Linked DNA regions of Homo sapiens: region 2 is linked to region 1. The links come from fine-mapping of genetic effects on gene expression. Tissue or cell type: whole blood. Region 1 holds a variant in brackets; the other region holds the start of a gene. All regions are shown on one strand. Distances are between the middles of the regions.

The links. PIP is the estimated chance that this variant, and not a neighbour inherited with it, causes the effect.
Region 2: it holds the start of FAAH, and the variant in region 1 is fine-mapped to the expression of FAAH in whole blood (INTERVAL, PIP 0.98).

The regions. Positions count from the first base shown.
Region 1 is chr1:46,278,322-46,281,079 of GRCh38, reverse strand. RAD54L (RAD54 like) reads right to left here. Exons shown (of 18, transcript NM_003579.4): 18 at 2,607-2,758. LRRC41 (leucine rich repeat containing 41) reads left to right here. Exons shown (of 10, transcript NM_006369.5): 6 at 520-684; 7 at 790-888; 8 at 1,466-1,588; 9 at 1,823-1,898; 10 at 1,996-2,758. The coding sequence ends at 2,215. Among named protein-coding and RNA genes, the nearest start is that of LRRC41, 24 kb to the left of the region's middle. The variant G/A (reference allele first, on the strand shown) is at 1,168.
Region 2 is chr1:46,393,228-46,395,842 of GRCh38, reverse strand. FAAH (fatty acid amide hydrolase) reads right to left here and starts at 1,526. Exons shown (of 15, transcript NM_001441.3): 1 at 1,300-1,526. The coding sequence starts at 1,494. RefSeq lists an enhancer at 1,125-1,638.

The sequences.
Region 1 (2,758 bases):
CCCACACAAAGGTGCAGATGCATTCGTATGGGGAAAGGGGAAGGACCTCTTCTATCACTCATTCCTGGCTTATCTGGAACCTATCCCCCCTTTAGAGCCTACCACTAAGATACTCTTGAGCTAGACAGGGCCTAAACCACCATAAGACCAGCAGAGAGTGACCAAGGCAGCTTGGTCTCCAGAAAAGGAAAAGAACTGATCTTTAGACTGGATTAGTTCCCCTGCTGTATGTTCCCTTAGTTCTTGTATGTCTCCTATCCCACCACTCTGCATACTTTATTTGCTTGTGTCTGGGTAGCCTGTCTTCCTGGTCTAAAATTTCTACAAGGGCAAGGACTAAATCTCATATTTAGTGCTCAATTCCTAGAATCTAGCACAGTGCTGACATATGGTAGGCACTCAACGACAAGTGAATGAATAAATAATTTTTTAGATGAATCCCTTAAGAACAGGATGGGACCTGCTATGGGAGTGAGGTAGAGATGGCCAGCTGGAATCTTCTTTCCCCACCATATCCAGAAAACTGCCTGGAGCAGTTGGAGATGGGATTTCCACGGGGAGCCCAGCCAGCCCCACTGCTGTGCTCCGTTCTGAAGGCCTCGGGTTCTCTGCAGCAGCTGTCCCTGGATAGTGCCACCTTTGCCTCTCCCCAGGATTTTGGGCTTGTTTTGCAAACACTCAAAGGTAGGACCCAGCCAGAATGGTGAAGGGAGAGGAGTAGGTGGGGACCTAGCACTGTTCTCTAGGAAAGCTAAGGTCCATGGTCCATGGTCTCTGCCTCCTATCCAGAGTACAACCTAGCCCTGAAAAGACTGAGCTTCCATGACATGAATCTCGCTGACTGTCAGAGCGAGGTGCTCTTTTTGCTACAGAATCTGACTCTGCAAGGTAAGTTCCTTATTCAGAACCTGGACATTTCCTGGGTCTTCACTATGGTTCTGCCATAATCTGAGTGAGCAAACCACTGTTCCTTTCTTGGCCTTGTGTCCTCAGCTATAAAATGGATATAGAACCTGCATGATTTTCCTTCTAAAAGCCCCAACCTCAATTCCTCCTCTACTAAACATGAGAAATCGCTCTTTTAGAGTGCTTCACCCAAAAGTTGCTCTTACCTTTCAGAGGTGGACAAAATGGTGGTGGTGGGGCAAAATAAATGTACTGTGCCAG[G/A]CTCCCCTCATAGACTTTTCTCTGATCCCCACCCCCGCATAGAGGGTGGCCAGTGTTAGGGAAAGAAGGAAGTGAATGGAGAATTGTCCATGCAGAGAACCTTCTTATAGGGAACATTTAGGTTCAGTCTTTAGTTTGGATTCTGATTTAGTTCCAGCCTTGCTTGGAGTCTAGACAAATTCCTTCCTCTTTTTGGGCCTCTATAATGTTAATACCCCTTGCTAGGGCCAACTGGGGCAGGAGGGGCAGCACCAGTCCTAATGCAGCCATCAGAATTTACTATAATTTTTCTTGACAGAGATTACCTTCTCCTTCTGCCGTCTGTTTGAGAAGCGCCCAGCCCAATTTCTGCCTGAGATGGTTGCTGCTATGAAGGGCAACTCCACACTGAAGGGCCTCCGGCTGCCAGGGAACCGCCTGGGTGGGGGCCAGACCCTGGGGAGGGAGAGGGGAAAGGAGCTAGGCCTTTGACCTAAAAACTCACTGGATAAAGGCAAAGACCTCTCCACTGGGAACGTGGGAGTTGGAATACAGATATTTCTGTGCTGGGGCTTCAGGAACCAGCAGGGCTGGTTCTGCCAGCCATAGTTGGGTTGGGATACCCTTGTCCCCTGTTCTTGGGTGGAGGTGATAGGCGTTCTCCCCTTCTCTCCAGGGAATGCTGGCCTGCTGGCCTTGGCAGATGTTTTCTCAGAGGATTCATCCTCCTCTCTCTGTCAGCTGGACATCAGGTACATGAGGGGAGGGGCAAGACAAGGGATGGGGCTACAGAGATATAGACCAGGAATTCACTGCTTCCTGGATATCTAATCCATCTCACCCTACCAGTTCCAACTGCATCAAGCCAGATGGGCTTCTGGAGTTCGCCAAGCGGCTGGAGCGCTGGGGCCGTGGAGCCTTTGGTCACCTGCGCCTCTTCCAAAACTGGCTGGACCAGGATGCAGTCACAGCCAGGGAAGCCATCCGGCGGCTCCGGGCTACCTGCCATGTGGTTAGCGACTCATGGGACTCATCCCAGGCCTTCGCAGATTATGTTAGCACCATGTGATGGGGCCCGTACCTCACAGTCTCATGCTCGGTACCATCAGCTTGCAGGGGCTGAAGCATGGGCTGCCCAGAACCCCAACCACCAGTTCTATCTTTCTCTTTCTGTCACCTTTTTTCTCTTTTTTCCTTCTTCCCTTGCACTGAGGTCCTGGAGGCCTTGATGAGGCCCAGCAAACAGGCATTCTCACAGCTGGGTTTATAGTCTTTGGGCCCCTTACTCAGTATCCTGGGAACCCTGGGCCAGGAGGTTACAGTGGTCATCATAATTGCTGAAGAGATCCCCTCCCCTGCCCCTGGGTTCCTGCCTTCCCTCCTCAAGCAGGCACCCAGGCTTTAGAGAAGTATAGGGGGCTTCTTCCCTGCTGGGCTTACCACACTGCTCTCAGGCCTCAAACCCTTTCATACCTTTATTCTTTTTTTTAACCAAAAAAGTTTTTCTTATAAAATAAATTTTGGGCAAACATCATGCAGCCCTTCTTGATGATTTTCTCCCAGAGAACAAAATTCAACAGGGCCCTGTGGAGCAAGGAGCCCCTTTTCCCTA
Region 2 (2,615 bases), 110 kb before region 1:
GCTGGCATGCAAGGTGCCTTCCTCATATCTCTCTCCTGTTCCTCTCCACGAAAGTGTGGCTGCAGAGTGCAGCGGGCACCTAGGTTCTAGTTCCAGCTCTGCCCCAACTCAAAAATCACTTGCGGAACATCTGCTGAACACAATTTTCTGTGACTCTTTCTGTCTCCCACCCAGGCACACCCTCCTGAGTCCTGCGGTTCCCAACCTGTAAAGCCTTCCCACCTGTCAGGTCCCACAGATACAGCAAGCCCTCCCTCTCTCAGCACATAAGAAGGCTTTAACTGGGGTCAGTGTTTCACACACCCAGAGGAAAAGCCCCTCTTCAAGCCACATCTTCCAAACCCTCAGCCAGGCCCTTCCACGCCTCCAAACCCACATACTGAGGTGATCCAAAGGCAGCGCAGGGAGAAAAGCTTGTTGACAGACCACCCACGGAGGGCTGGAACTAAACCTGCTCATGGAAAGGGCTTGCCAGGGGTTGGACACCACAGCAGGAGCCAGAGAGACTTCCCTTCTAGCCTGGCTTTGCCAAGATCTCCCTGTGCACTTGGCAGGTTTCTTTCTGGCTCCCTCTTAGGATCCAAATGCACAAATCAAGAAGCTTGAACTCAGCCAGGCGCGGTGGCTCACGCCCAGCACTTTGGGAGGCCGAGGCAGGTGTATCAACTGAGGTCAGGCGTTTGAGATCAGCCTGGCCAACATGGTGAAACCCAGTCTCTACTAAAAATGCAAAAATTAGCCAGGCGTAGTGGCGGGCCCCTGTAATCCCAGCTACTGGGGATGCTGAGGCAGCAAGAATCGCTTGCACCCGGGAGGCGGAGGTTGCAGTGAGCCGAGATCGCACCACTGCACTCTTGCCTGGGAGTCAGAGCGAGACTCCGTCTCAAAACAAAACAAAAAAAAACAAAAAACAAAACTCTAAGCTCTCCAGATCCCCTTGGCCATTACACTCTGCGATTCCAAAGTCCTCAACCCCTGGCATCCCACTGGTTGTCACGCTTGCGTTTTCGCATTCCAATAGGCAGCAATCGTGAGATTCTTTGGCACAAAGCAAAACTCCTCTTTGACCCAGTGAGGGAAAGGCCTTCCACCACCTGCCTTGACACTACCGTTTCCTTTCTTCCCCCGTGCTCTACCTGGCTCAGAAAGTGCGGAATATCTTAGGGCAAGGAGAGATTCTGGAGAGTTACACATCTGCTCTGCCCGCCCCATCCCCTGTCCCTCGGCGGGTCCGGCGGCTGAAAGTGCCGCTGCGAGTACCCTCAGGCCGCGCCCATCCCACTACGCTCCGGCAGTCACCTGGAGCCGGAAGCGCTGCGCCGCCCTGTCCATGTTCTCCAGGCCCGCTCGCTGCCTCTGTCGCGCCCGGACCACCGCGCCCCGCGCCGTCCGGCGCCCGGACCAGCGCAGGGCCACGGCCGCCGCCACGAAGCAGCAGGCCAGGGCGACCCCGGAGGCGCCAGGCAGCGCGGCCCACAGCTCGTACTGCACCATGATCCCTTCAGCCTGCTGCTGCCTACCGCGACAGTTGAAGCCGCCGCACGCGCAGCCCGCCCGCTCCGCCGCAAAACCCGGACTGGATCAGCCGGGATCCCACGCCCGCCTGCGCGGGAGGGGCGGGGAAGCGCGCCAGAGCCTAGAGGCTATCAGAGGCGGCCCGCCTGGCATCGCCCCCAGCGACATCCCGCTCCCCGCCAAGCCGAGCAGGCGGGTGGGGAAGGGCGACTGTTTCTCGTGGGCGACCTCCCAAGCTTGAGTTTAGCACCGGTTGGGCACCACAGCCCCGGCCGTCCTCTGCCCCCTGCACCCCAGAGCCCCAAATGCTGAAGACTGCGCCCCAGCCGGAGCCCCATGCCAGACATGCCAGCTGTTAGATATGAGTTCTAAATTTATCTTAAAAGAATCAATATGTCAGTATCTTCAATTCTTTGCCTTCTACTTTTAAACTTAACTTCCTCATAAAGCAACATTTTTCGATTACCTGCTCCTCCCTCACTCATTCTTCACCGTGGTTCATTCCGATTTCCTGCTCTGCGGTAACCATTTTTCCCGCCAAACCACTCACCCCCTCACTGTCTTTAAATTAGCCAATCGGAATTAGTTTAGCCTATAGGTCTAACCCTAGCCAACAGGGGAAGGACACAGCATCAGGAATCACGTGGGTCAGGCATAAGAACCACCTTCCCCTCCCTTGTCCAGGTGTGCGCTCACCTTTGCTCCGTCTGTGAGGGCGCACCCTTCTATAGAAGTAAATTGCCTTGCTGAGAAGAAAAAAAAGAAAATTTTATATTCGAGTGCTATTTCTTTTGCGGCACTGGGGGGAAACTTTATTTATAACAATTTGGGGGCTTGCTCGTGATTACATTCCCCTTCAGGGGCAGTCTCTGGTTCTCTCTCCTGAGGAGGTATGCCCCACCCTCTTGTGATGGCCTCAGGGGTGAGAAATCAGGACTCACCCAGTGCAAGAAATAACCTGAGCTCTCAGCAATGTGAAAAGAAACCAGCAGGCAACCTAGGGTAAAGCATCCTCACACACTGCAGAGACAACTCTGTGCACAGACAAAGGAAGAAGCCGAGGGAGCCGGTAAGGTACTTCCTTGGTGGTCAAATTCTGG